Linked DNA regions of Homo sapiens: region 1 is linked to region 2. The links come from fine-mapping of genetic effects on gene expression. Tissue or cell type: naive CD4 T cells. Region 2 holds a variant in brackets; the other region holds the start of a gene. All regions are shown on one strand. Distances are from middle to middle.

What was found. PIP is the estimated chance that this variant, and not a neighbour inherited with it, causes the effect.
Region 1: it holds the start of MPRIP, and the variant in region 2 is fine-mapped to the expression of MPRIP in naive CD4 T cells (Schmiedel 2018, PIP 0.95).

What each region holds. Positions count from the first base shown.
Region 1 is chr17:17,038,340-17,046,408 of GRCh38, forward strand. It overlaps MPRIP (myosin phosphatase Rho interacting protein), which reads left to right and starts at 4,118. Exons shown (of 24, transcript NM_001364716.4): 1 at 4,118-4,632. The coding sequence starts at 4,510. LOC124903938 (a long non-coding RNA gene) reads right to left here and starts at 3,986. Exons shown (of 3, transcript XR_007065644.1): 1 at 3,932-3,986; 2 at 3,442-3,569; 3 at 1,004-1,418. RefSeq lists silencers at 3,683-4,142, 5,816-6,110 and an enhancer at 4,805-6,004.
Region 2 is chr17:17,216,592-17,222,164 of GRCh38, forward strand. It overlaps FLCN (folliculin), which reads right to left. Exons shown (of 14, transcript NM_144997.7): 8 at 4,946-5,037; 9 at 2,428-2,618; 10 at 478-591. Among named protein-coding and RNA genes, the nearest start is that of PLD6, 13 kb to the left of the region's middle. The variant CT/C (reference allele first, on the strand shown) is at 2,974.

The sequences.
Region 1 (8,069 bases), 180 kb before region 2:
CATCTCAAACAAAAAAAAAAAAAAAAAAGAAAGAAGTGCTTATGTCCACCAAAGACAAGCACGAAGATACTCGTAGCATTATTCATAATGGCCCCAAACTGGAAACATCCTGAATGTCTATCCACGGGAACATGGACAGATAAATTGTAGTATTTCCACACAAGGGACTACCAGGCAGCAATGAAAAAGAATGAAGTACTGATATATACAGTAGCCGTGTGGATTGAATTTCACAGGCATACTGTTGAATGAGAAGAGCCAGGCATAGCTCGCAGCGGATTCCACTCATCTATGGTGATGGAGATCAAAATAGTGGTTACCTCTGGGTATCTGTGTGTAAATTCTGCTCCCTAACAGGACACAGGGAAAACTTCCCAGGATGGCAGTCAGAGCCACAAATCAAGACTTACCTGCATTTGGGGCTCACCTGAGCGGCCTTTTCTTGCTTGCTTGCTTATTTGCTTTTTTGAGATAAACAATATACATTGAGGTGTACACAATGCAGTGAAAAAAGCATACAGCCCAGTGAATCTTTACATGTTTACACTGAGTATTGAACTTCATGCAAAGTGCTGTTCTAGGCCCCTGGAAAGGGAAGCCAAGGTTATGAGACACAGACTGTGTCGGTATGGATTTCATAATCTGGTGGAGGAGATATTACAATACAAGGTGGAACGATGACTTTTCATCCATTCACCCATGGGGTGTTTTTCTTGTTTGTTTTGTTTTTTGAGACAGAGTCTCACTCTGTCGCCCAGGCTGGAGTGCAGTGGCACGATCTCGGCTCACTGCAAGCTCCGCCTCCCGGGTTCATGCCATTATCCTGCCTCAGCCTCCCTAGTAGCTGGGACTACAGGCGCCTGCCACCAAGCCTGGCTAATTTTTTGTATATTTAGTAGAGACAGGGTTTCACTGTGTTAGCCAGGATGGTCTCGAACTCCTGATCTCATGATCCGCCCGCCTCGGCCTCCCAAAGTGCTGGGACTACAGGTGTGAGCCACTGCACCCCCATGGGGTGTTTTTGAGCCCCTGCTCTATGCCAGGCACTGAACTAGACAGGGGAAATGGAGTAGCAACCAAGACCCCACTCTACCGTGAGGGTTTTGGAGAGGAGCGCAACTAATTGATTCTACCTCCTAAACATTTTCCAAATTCATTCCCTTGCCTCCCACTGACCCTATCCTAGTCAGGCTGCTACCCTCTCTCCTCTGCAGCTCTCTCAGTCCTTGCCCCTGATTCATTCTCCAGATCAGCAGCCCTTACCTAAGTGCTCAGCCGAAAAAAATTCAAAATTGATGACTGCCCCTGGCCCAGGCAGCTCCGGTGCTGGCCTGTGTGGGCTCAAATCTTCACTTGTAGGATCTATAATTGTGACCACAGGCAAGTTCCTGATATGTCCTGAGCCTCGTGTGTGTCTTCTATAAAATGGAGATGAAATAGTATTAACAACAAAAACCATACCTGTCTCCCTGAAGAGGCTAGGCTTGCACCATCCACTACTCCTCCCAGTGCCTCTCAATGCTGGTCACTCCTGCCTCTCTGAACTACCCAGTGATAGAAAGCTGCTTCTGTTCATGAACACACCCTTTGGTTTCAAGGCCTGAGACTCTATAATTGGTGCCCCAGTTTGACGTGTCTTTCCCTTCACCTTCTCTGGCTGGGTCTTACTCAGCTCCAGACTCGGCCTAGGCATTGCCTCCTCCAGGAGCCTTCCCTGAAGCTGCCTACGGGGCTGGGTGCCCCTGTGTGGGCCCCCACAACACCCCGGATTGAACTTCTCTGTCTCCTGTTTCTGTTTGTCTCCACTTGCTTGAGTGTGGGCTCCTGCCGGGCAGGCTGCCTCTGAGTTGCTGAATGAAACTCTTCTTTGCGCCCCTACTGTGGACCCCTCCAGTCCAGTGCAGGTGCTGGATGTGCCTACTGACCTGAGCAGAACATGCTGAGCACTTTAAGGGAGGTGGCCTTGAGGAATGGGCAGGACATCAAGAAAGAAAATATATATATATATATATATATATATGTATGTATATATATATTTTTAAACAAGTTGTACATGCAGACAATACTAAATTCAGCAGAAACAAAAGGGATTGCAATGAAAATTAAAAGTAGGTCACCTCTCAACCACCCAGCTCCCCTCCCCAGTGGCCACCTCTTCTATCAGTTTCTGAGTATTCTCTGCAGGGCAGAATTGTCAGTCTTCCGTCCCTTTTTTATTTTGCAAAAATTTAAAGCAACAGAAAAGTTGCAAGAATAGTACAATAAGGCCGGGCGCGGTGGCTCACGCCTGTAATCCCAGCACTTTGGGAGGCCGAGGCGGGCGGATCACGAGGTCAGGAGATCGAGACCATCCCGGCTAAAACGGTGAAACCCCGTCTCTACTAAAAATACAAAAAATTAGCCGGGCGTAGTGGCGGGCGCCTGTAGTCCCAGCTACTCGGGAGGCTGAGGCAGGAGAATGGTGTGAACCCGGGAGGCGGAGCTTGCAGTGAGCCGAGATCCCGCCACTGCACTCCAGCCTGGGCGACAGAGCGAGACTCCGTCTCAAAAAAAAAAAAAAAAAAAAAAAAAAAAAAGAATAGTACAATAAACACCTTTTGCCTAGATTCACCAATTAACATTATGCTACTTAACAAGCATTATATCATTTAATGTTCACATTAATTAATTAATGCCAATTTTGTACATGAGGTCACTGAGGCACCAGGCAGGTTAAGGGACTTGCCCGAGGCCACAGAGCTCCTGCCTGGTGGAGCTGGGCTTTCCCCCTTAGGCTGCCAAAGGACTTTGATCTGCCTTCCCACAGCTCCCTTTTGAGGAAAAGCATTTTCTTACACTAAGTTGAAATCCACCTCCCTGGGATATTTACCAGATGATCCGTGGAAAAGTACACAGCTCTGGAAGCATTTGCTACTTCTCCTCCTAAAACCTCCTCCATTCCCTGAGCGACAGCTGCTGTGGCTGCCACTACCACATGCTCCAATGTCACCTCCTCCGTGAAGGCTGGGTTAGCTCACCCCCCTGTTTAAAGACTCACCATGACTCCCAGCTGCCAGTGGGATGACATGTGCACGCCTGGGCTTGGAATACAAGGCCTGGGTGATAGAGCCCTCTTCCAATCCCTCTTGCTCCTTCTTCCCCTATCTCCACTTCCAGCCACACTCAACCCTCTCACTGTCCACTTAAACTTCCCCTCCTCCTTGAAGCCACCCGAATTTTTCTAAAGAGCGCATTTCTCCCCTCTCTGGGCTCCTGCAACCTTCTGCCTGAGCCTTTGACAGCCTTTTCCAGGTTGTCTTTTGGCCAGGAGGCTGGACAATGGAGGACGGGAGTGACAGCTCGGCCCCTTCCTAGCAGAGTGATCCTACACAAATTACTCCAGGTGTCTGACCCTTCATTTCCTCAAGCACATCATGGGGGAAAGAATGCCTAGCTCAGCACCTGGCAGAGAGTCAGCCTTCGCTCATCTCCCCTAATGGAGCTGACAGCTCTTCAAGTCCGCTGACATCTTCTCTTAGTCATCCCTTGAAATACTACCCGCTGTTACTTCTCTGCTCCTCAGTCTCCTCCTATGTAAAATGGGGATGAGAAAGGAGAGGTTGCGAACCTTTAATGAGCGAGCCCTTGGAGTATCCAGCCCTTCCCGACGCTAACTGACTCCTACGAGGGGGCCTGGTACACAGTAGGTGCTAAACTAATCCTCTCCGAGCTGGGCTTGGGGAAGATGCCTCCGTTGGGTGTACAGCGTGGGCGCGGGAAGGCGAGCCTGGGAGCGAGGGGGTTGCAGAGAGGCAGCCTGAGGTCGGCTCCGCCTTCCCCCGCATCCCCCGCCCGGGCCCTGCAGCTGTCAGCCCGGCCGGCCTCGGCGCCAGTCCACCAAACCTGAACGTCCCATGCCGGCGCCCCCACCTTCCCGGCCTGCACAACTTACCTTGCGCTCGGCGGCCCTCGGTCCCGCCCCCGACTGCCATTGGCCCAGAGGTTCCTTTGTTAGCGAGAGCGCGCCAACCCCATTGGCCGGTGGGGCTGCCGATCGCGTCGGGCGCGGCCCCGCCCCGTACGCCCCGGCACCTCCCCGCGCCCGGCCGCCCGCCCGCCCGCCCGCCCGCCCGCCCCCGTAGTGCGTGAGGCGCTCCGGTCCCATTTGCAGCGGCCGCGGGGCGCCGAGGGCAGCTGCGGCGGCGCGGACGAGCCGGGACGGCGGCGACCGGAGCCTGAGAGGCGGGCCGCAGCGGGAAGCAGCGGGCCCGAGGCCGCGTCCATGGGCCCGCGGCGGCCGGGCGGCGGCGGTGCGGGCGGGAGCTGGGCGTCGCGCGCGCTGTGAGGCCCGGGCGGCTCAGGAGCCTCGGCGCGTGCAGCGAACCGCCCGCCGGGAAGGAGGCCGGGCCGGGCCTGCGGCGGGGCCGGCGAGGGATGCGGCGCGGCCGCGCTGAGCCCCTAGCCCGCCGGGAGCGCCAGGCCGGCCAGGCCTGCGCCGCCGCCGCCGCCGCCGTCGCCGCCGCGCCGACCATGTCGGCAGCCAAGGAGAACCCGTGCAGGAAATTCCAGGCCAACATCTTCAACAAGAGCAAGTGTCAGAACTGCTTCAAGCCCCGCGAGTCGCATCTGCTCAACGACGAGGACCTGACGCAGGTGAGCGACTGGGGCCGGCCCGGACACCTCCGTTCTGGGAGCCGCGGGTCGGCGGCCGGGGCGCCGCCAAGGGCTGCAGGGAAAATAAAAATGGAGCAGGGAAATGCGCGAGTCCTGGGGCATGGGGACGGGGACGGGAAGTGCATTGACAGAGCTGGGACAAAGGGAAAATCCTCGAGTATGCCGAAAAATAACATCCTTTCCCGTTCCCATTGCCCGGCTGTGTGATTCATGCTTTTTGGGTGACTCAAAAGTGCCTGGTTTCGCTTAGTAGGAACAAAGCGCTTAGGGATTGCATGCCGCTTGACGGGACCCCCCTGAGATTCTGGCTTGGGACTGGACTTGGATTTGTCCAGCCAGAGTGGCCCAGGGGTCGGATTGTTGGGGAGGACTGTGGGCTTCCGTCTAGTGGGACGCAGCCTGCCCCGATTCTGAATCATCGTCACTGTCAAGCACTGGAGAGAGGTGAAGGGGTGTCCAAATCTGGCGAGGAGGGTCTTGTTCTTGAACTTAGTTTGGCAGGCCGTAGTTTAGCGGGGAGCTGGGACCAGTTCCCTGGTCACTGGCCGAGGGGTGAGGAGACCTGTGGGTCCTCGGGAAAGTTGATTTCTGTCTCCCAGCCTTAACTGTCAAACAGGGCTTTGAACTAGTTATGACTCCCAAACGTGCATTAGAGTCATAGCCATTAAACACAGAGTTCTGGGGCCCCCGCCCTGGAGTGACTGGGGAGATGGGGAATTTGTATTGATGAAAGGCTCCAAGAGGCTTGGCTGCAGCCCCCATGGCCCTTGGGAACCCCTGCAGTGATTGCTGTTTGAACTCCTAGTGTTCCAGGATTCCGAGCCTTGTGTGCACCTCCTTGGGATGTGCCTCGGTACCCTCCCCACGGCCATCATCTCCATCCTCTTCAGAGCTTTCTCTCAGCCTCCTGAATGAAGCCAGGGGAAGTCCCTTCACATTCCAGTCCAGTGTGACCTAGTTGTAGCCACTCCTGTCGCAGAAGAACCCCTTAGACTGAAAACGAGTGAACGGGCCTGGTTGTTTTTAATGCCACTTCAGTGCACCCAGGGTTTGACTTGTTTACATGGCCGACTGGAGTAGGGTGGTGGGGCAGGGGTTACGGCCTGGGGCACGGGGCCTTTCTCTGAGGTCAGGTTTCCAACTGCCAGGAAAAGATTCCTTTCATCTAAACCCCAAAAGCTTAACGAAACACTCAAGGCTGCAAAGTCATAGATGGTTAAGATACCAAGGGTTTTAAGGACGGTCAGCTTGGGACGGATAGAACTCATTTACCTCGGAGGGTGTTTTGGAGTGTAAAGGAGAACTTGATTCCTTCTTCTCATCTGGATGCTTTTTTGGATGAAACAGTTTATGCGATGAGGAGTTGTTAGGAGACTTTGCTTCAGGTCTTGGCTGTCACTTCCAGCTGTGTGACCTTGAACAAATCCCTTTACTTCTGTATCTTTTAATTTCCTTATCTGTAAATTGGGAATCCTGGTCCCTGGCTTACCTCCTTCACTGAGCATTTGTGAAAAGCAAGAAATGATATTTTATGAAACTTTTTTCTCTTACAATTTAACAAACCAAAAAAACCTGCCACTTTAAGAAGTTTCTGGGCAAGGGTTGTTCTGAGAGAGGTTTGTAAGTTTCCTGGTTATTCTAAGCAACTGTCAAAATTGGTAAATTTACACCTCATAGGGGCTGTTTTCGAATTCTTAAGCTTAGATAAACTAGGATGGAATCTGCATGTTTGAGTCCAATCTGCTAAGATTTTTTTTAATCTGTTGATTATTAATTGGATTCACGGGGAGAGGCAAACTTAAAATACTGTACTCTCACTGTATTCAAAGTTGAATTGTGGGTTTTGAAACAGGCCTGAGACCTTCAGGGCACAACTGGAATGGTAGTTTCTGAAATAATGAGTGGGGTTATTTGTGCTGGGAGAGGTTAGCCCAGCATTCTACCTCCTGGGATCTTTCAGGAAGAAACTGCTCTTGAAAAGAGAGGAGGGAGACTCAGGGCTGTTGCCAACAGCCTTCTCTGCTGCTCTCTGCATCCGGCCCTCCCTCTCACTCTCATCCTTATGGCTCCATTAGAAAACCTCAACCAATCGGTTCCCATCAGTCTCCCCCAAGCCCCTGCTTCCTGCTGCCCCTCCCAGCCTGGAGCTTATTTTAGACCGTCAAAGCTGGAAGATACATCAGCCACCATCGAGGCCACTCCCTCCTTAAGAGGAGAGGATACTGGGCCCAGGGAGGTGGTGGGCAGCCTTGGCCGGCTTTTGCTCTGGAGATGTCATCTTCCCAGGAGCAGACATTTCTCTGAGCCTTTTGGTTTGAGGTTTATTTCCTCAGCTGTGGGTTTTGTTTGTTTGTTTTTCCCCTAGAGAGGCACAGAAACCTCTTGCAGGGACTGTATTATGGCATCAGACCTGGAAGGGACTTGGAGATCAGCTAATGTAACCACTTCCTCTTACCGGTGAGAAGATTGAAACCCAGAGAAGGGAAGTGACTTGCCCAGTTCAGGGATGGAGCCAGGATTCTGAAGCCAATGTTAGTTCCCCTACTCCTGTTCAGGGTCTACAGTGGCCACACCATGAGCACATGATGAGGACAATAATGTCAGGGATAGTTATGTTGCAGGAGGTGCCTTGAGAATGCTGGCTTGGAGCAGTGGAGTTCTTTGCCTTTTCCTCCTCACGGAAATTTGGAGTAATCTGGGATAAGTGATAAGTGACCGTCCTTTATTACTTGTTCCAGGCCCCTGTTCACAGAGTGTCATTTATCCTCCAGTTTTCCTGTGCATTTCTCAGCGACATACGGACCCAAATATACAGTTTTTTTTTTTTTTTTGAGGCGGAGTCTCGCTCTGTTGCCCAGGCTGGTGTGCAGTGGCGCGATCTGAGCTCACTGCAAGCTACGCCTCCCAGGTTCATGCCATTCTTCTGCCTCAGCCTCCCGAGTAGCTGGGACTACAGGCACCCGCCACCATGCCTGGCTAATTTTTTGTATTTTTAGTAGAGACGAGGTTTCACTGTGTTAGCCAGGATGGTCTTGATCTCCTGACCTCGTGATCCGCCTGCCTCGGCCTCCCAAAGTGCCGGGATTACAGGCGTGAGTCACTGTGCCCAGCTCAAATATACAGTTAAACCTTTTTATCCTGAACTGTGTGCATGTATTTGCTCTGCGACATATTTTTTGTTTTCTGCTTATCAGCATATCTTTACGTTCTTTTCATGGTGTTGCATATAAAGATGCCAGAACCATTTTGCATATTAGGCCTTTAGGAGTGTACTATAATTTAACCCGTTTCCTTATTGATAGACATCAAGGTTGCTTATGGGTTTTGCTGTTACATACAGTGAATGTTTCGGCAAAGAGTCTTATAAATACTTCTGGGTGTGTGTGCGTGCATGCATGAATGCAAGTATTTCTCTG
Region 2 (5,573 bases):
TCCTGCAGCCCGGTCCAAGCCCTCCCTCCTGCCAGAGGAGTCCCCAGACTCTCAGCCCACAGTGGGGGTGAGGGGGGAGGGTCCTCCACCACCAGGTCCCTAACTCTTGTCTGGACCGCCAGTCACACACCAGCTTGTACCGCCCCTCGCTCTGTGGTGTTAACTCATATTAATGTTTGCCTGCACAGATGTTTGTCTCCTACCGCATCCCACAAAGAAGCTTTTACCAAGACTGTGTCATATGCATTTTTGTTCCCTCTCAGGCCTGGGCAGTCAGCAGGCACACGCATCCTTCTGATGATTTAAACATCATCAGACCAGACCCGGGTCTCCGTGCCCACTGCGCCCCCAGTGGAGACCGTGTGGTGCACAGCGGTTCTGTGCTGGGCAGTCGGTGCACCTTGGCATCCCCACCTGACGCCAGGCACCAGGCCAATACTGCCCTGCGCCGCACACCTAAGGAAAAGATGTTCTCACCCGAAGTACTTCAAAAGCTGACTGGACGAGGTCCACGTCTCTGCTTTTCCAGATCACCTGGTTCCCCATGAGAACGTGCCAGGCCAGCATGCGGAAAGAAGGGGCACCCAGGACCTAAACAAGAGAGTGCAGTGCTTTCAGCGTGACTAGTAGAAATGGTTTTTCTCTCCCTTCCCATGAAGTTATTTGTGTGTTCATAAAACTTTGTAGAGCAAAGACAGGGCTCAGGAGAAAGACACTTATCTTCTCAGGGAGGCGGGTGCCCGGCCCAGGGTTAAAGGGGCAGAGAGAGAAGTTCCAGGTTTGCACATAAATGCTAGATTCCAAAGCTCTTGCTCCAAGATCTTTCTCCCAGTTTTGTTTTTAAAAATTTGAAGCAAAAAGATGTTAACTTTGTGCAATATTCACCTTCTCTCTACAGACACTTTCTGCTGAACCATTTGAAAGCAAGCTGTAGGGCCCTCGACATGGCAGCACCCAGGAGAATAAGGGCATCTCCACAGCTGAGACCATGACTGCAGCCAGGAGTGCCTGGACGGACGCATCTGACATCCAGCCGTGTGCACAAGCCCAGGGCTGCTGCCTGCTTGACGGCTGCTGTTCTTTGGATCCAGGAGATACTACAGGACCCATCATGGCTTTTAGTTGTCACGTCCTTATTCTTTAACCTAGAACAGCCTCTCCCCACACCCCACCTGTTATTAACTTCCATGACATTGACACCTTAGGAGAGTCCAGCCTGCTGTCTCACGGCTTCTAAGAAGCCAAACCCAGCTTTGAAACACAACATAAGAGAGAGGCCACAATACTATGTCTCACCAAACCCCAACAGCCTCAAAGTAGTCCCACCTCCAGAGGAATTCCAGACCCCTTCCAACCTTCATCAACATAAGCAACGGACAAGGAAGGTTTCAGCCAAATGCAGGATTTTGATGGAATGGGTGTTTACATCCAGAAGCCCCAAGGACATCTGCCATGAAATCAGTCTCACTCCATTTTCAAAAACAAATAACTCTCTTCTAATGAATCAGTGCTCATTGGAAAAATTCATGCAGAAGAATTTTATAAGAAGGCAGCCTGCCCTTGTAATCCAGCAACCCACACCCCTCTCTCCCGGCATCTGACTCGATGTAACTGGAGACAACACTGTTAGATTTTGTCGTGTCTGGCAGGCACACATGTACATACATCACCCTGAACACACAGTGCCTGCTTTATTTCTTCTAATTAATCATATTCCATGGTTTGGCTACTGTTTACTAGTATGGTTTGATATGCAAGTTGTTCCTAATTTTTTGTAAGAATGACCATCACTTTCTTTTTTTTTTTTTTTTTGAGATGGAGTCTCGCTCTGTCACCAGTCTGGAGTGCAGTGGTGCCATCTTGGCTCACTGTTAACCTCCACCTCCCAGGTTCAAGCGATTCTCCTGCCTCAGCCTCCAAGTAGCTGGGACTACAGGCACATGCCACCATGCCCAGCTAATTTTTGTATTAATAGAGATGGGGTTTCACCATGTTGGCCAGGCTGGTCTCGAACTCCTGACCTCGTGATCCGCTCCCCCTTGGCCTCCCAAAGTGCTGGGATTACAGGTGAGAGCCACCACGCCCAGCCAGACCATCACTTACAATGGGCAGGGTCCAGGCTGCATCCAAACCAATTACAGTGCTGTTCAATGCCTTTAGGAGCTTCTTAGAGGATTAGAGGACCATGGGATGCCAACTATCTGGGCTTTTCTTTGAAGATACTTAGGTCATCACTGAAAGGGGAGCACTGATCCTATGGCTAATACCCCCAACGCCCTGTGCCCTCAGCCACCCACCGAGGAGGCTGTCAGTCACTTCCTGCAGGGTTTTGAAGGTGGAGGGTCCAGAGGCAAGGCGTGTGGGCAGGGACAGCCCATGACTGGCTCTCCTCCTGAGCTCCTGATGCGCTGTGCCCCTGCCGCCTACCTGCCTCATGTGCCGGAGGGACTTGAAGACTGGCAGCTTCCGGGGCTGCCAGCTCCCACAGCCTGAGAGAGAGGAGGACTCTGCCGGGCCCTGGGTCAGCTCCCGCCCTTCTGTACTCTCTGGCAACACAGGGGCTTTCTCCTCCTCTTCAGCCTCAGAGTTGTCCCAGCTTTCTGATTCCTCTTCTAAATCTGCAAGACAGATGACAAGGACAGTTACAGATACAAACAGTCTCATCCTGTGACTTCAGCCCAAGATACTTCATGGGCTGAGCCGGTCAGTGTAGATTCCTGGCTGCGGCCAGGTCCTATGCTCCCTGCTCCCTGTTGCTCTGGGAGCCCTGGGGTGGGAGGGAGGGCTCAGTTGCTGTCTACTTAGCCCGGGGTACCACACATCTCTCTTAGAAGCACTTATGGAAAGACCGTCAGCTGTTCTCTGCTGGTGAGAAAACTCAAATCAGTAAGAAAAATGCCAACAGCGTGTCTACGGAACACACCCAGTCGGCCACAGTTCTCGAGGATCTACACGTTGTTTCTTTTTTTTCCA[CT/C]TTTTTTTTTTTTTTTTTTTTTGAGACGGAGTCTCACTCTGTCGCACAGGCTGGAGTGCAGTGGCGCAATCTCGGCTCACTGCAACCTCCGCCTCCTGGGTTCAAGCGATTCTTCTGCCCCAGCCTCCCAAGTAGCTGGGACTACAGGCACCTGCCACCATGTCCGGCTAACTTTTTTTGGTATTTTTAGTAGAGACGGGGTTTCACCGTTATCTGCCAGGCTGGTCTCAAACTCCTGACCTCATGATCCCCCGACCTCGGCCTCCCGGTCCACTTTTGTTTTAGCTTGAGGGCGTACGTGTGCGGCTTTGTTACAAGGGTATGCTGCGTGGTGCTAAAGTTTGGGCTTCTATGAATCCTGTCACCCAGACAGTGAACCACAGGAAGTAATATGCCCAGATAGTATCCAATAGAAAGCATTTCAGCCCTTCCTCCCCTTCCTCCCTCCCTCCCTCCTTCTGGAGCCCCCAGTGTCTACTATTCCCATCTTTTTTATTTGAGACAGTGTCTCGCTCTGTTGCCCAGGCTGGAATGCAGTGGCACGATCACGGCTTACTGCAGCCTCAATCTTCTGGGCTCAAGTGATCCTCCCAACGAAGCCTTCCAAGTAGTGGGACTACAGGCATGCGCCACCACGCCCAGCTACTTTTCATATTTTTTGTAGAGACTGGACCTCCCTATGTTGCTCAGGCTGGTCTCAAACTCCTGAGCTCAAGCAATCCACCTGTCTCGGTCTCCCAAGAGCTGGGATTCCAGGCGTGCACCAGTGCCTGACTTCGTTCTTTATGGCTACATCCAACATCATTTCATTTAGTCCTCTCAGCTGTTCTGAGGTCAGCACTATTATCTCCATTTCACAGATGAAGAAATTAGTATTTGTCATTTCAACGAAACTTCATGGAGCCCTCACAAATGACAACATCTCCATTTCACATCACGAGACCCAAAGGGAAGGGTGCACGTCAGAAGCAAATCCAGGATGCGAAGCCAGGTCTGTCTGATGCCAAAGGGCAAGCCCTGAGCCCGAAACCCCATACTGCGCATGCCCAGCACACCTGCGTTTCCAGCTCTCACAAAGGCTTCGACAGACCTGGCTCTTCGTGCTAAAAAGCTCACCAAGACACTGCCCTTGCCATCTGCACCTGCCTAGAAACATGATTAGCACTATAATAAATGGCTCCAGGGCCAGCCAACCTGCAGGGCATGGGGGTGGATTCCCAGGCTTTGTCTTTCCTGACCAGGTTTTGCTCTTGCTGAGACTCCATTGGCAAAGCTTATTTGAGGGCACGCCTGCACCTGCCTGCAGAAACACCTCGAAACAGCTCTGGCTGTTTGGAAGGCTGGTCATTTGCAAGCAGAAGCATGGGAAGCATTATTAATGACATGTGGTGTGGAACAATGGTCGTACCACAGACCTGTAGCACCAAGATCAAATCATCCCTGATGGAAAGCTTGGCCAAGACTGGCCCAGTGCTTCCAGGCTGGTGCACACAGTGCCACGATCCCCAAACACAGGGCCCCAAGCCCCAGATCAGGAACCTGGGGAAGCCCAGGCACCTGGGAGGTCAGGGAACCACTGCCCTTCATGGAAAACTTGGGACGAACTGAAACAGAACACTTTATTTGTAAAGGAGCAAAGACCGTCGACCAGGCCAAGCACTTGGCTATCACAAAATCGGGACGAGAAGCCTTTAATCAGCCAGTTCTCTCTACAGACAGCCCACCTGTGAATTTTCCCCACCTAGCTGGGGAACAGATTCTTTCACATGGCGGTCAAGGCAAACGAGACAGGAAATCACAACAATCACAACAATCACACCGAGATCGGAGGGTGAGCTTCCCGAAGGCTCGTTCTGGGCTGATTCAGAGCCGCGTTTCCCTCCCTCAGCGATTCCTGCCAGGAGAGCAGACAGCTGGTACCGCCCCACGGCCATCCGGGCCAAGGCCCCGGCAACAGCACCCCTGCCTCACCAGCGAGCTTCTCCATCTGGACCAAGGTATCCTCGGTCGGAGCACCTTCCAGGAGCTTCTCGGTCAGCCGGCTGCCACACGCCTTCAGGAGCCTGGAGAACACAGCACCAGCTATGAGCGTTCTCGCCAAAGGAAAAAGCAAACCTGACGCTCACCCAGCCCCTGATCCTACCAGTTTAAAGAAAAAATGGGTATAAAAGAACACCAGCAGGGCACAACCAGCCAGATCCCGCATGCAGGCAGTTCCACAAGTCAACGACCAAGGTCCTTCAATAGATGGATGGGAGGAACTTGGAGGGGAGGGGATGCAAGGGGGAGCTGTTCTAAACCAGAGAGACTTGGGGCGCTGCTCCGATGCCAATGCAGTCACTTGTGAGACAAAAGGTAAACTGCACAAGGGCTTGCAGCCTGGAGAACACTCAGGAGTCTGTCCGTTTTGTCGGACATGATCACAGTATTGTGATTATATTTATGGCTGGAATGATACGACTCAGATTTGCTTTAAAAAAAAAAAAAAAGGCTGGGCGCGGTGGCTCACACCTGTAATCCCAGCACTCTGGGAGGCTGAGGCAGGTGGATCACATGAGGTCAGGAGTTTGAGAACAGCCTGGCCAACATGGTGAAACCC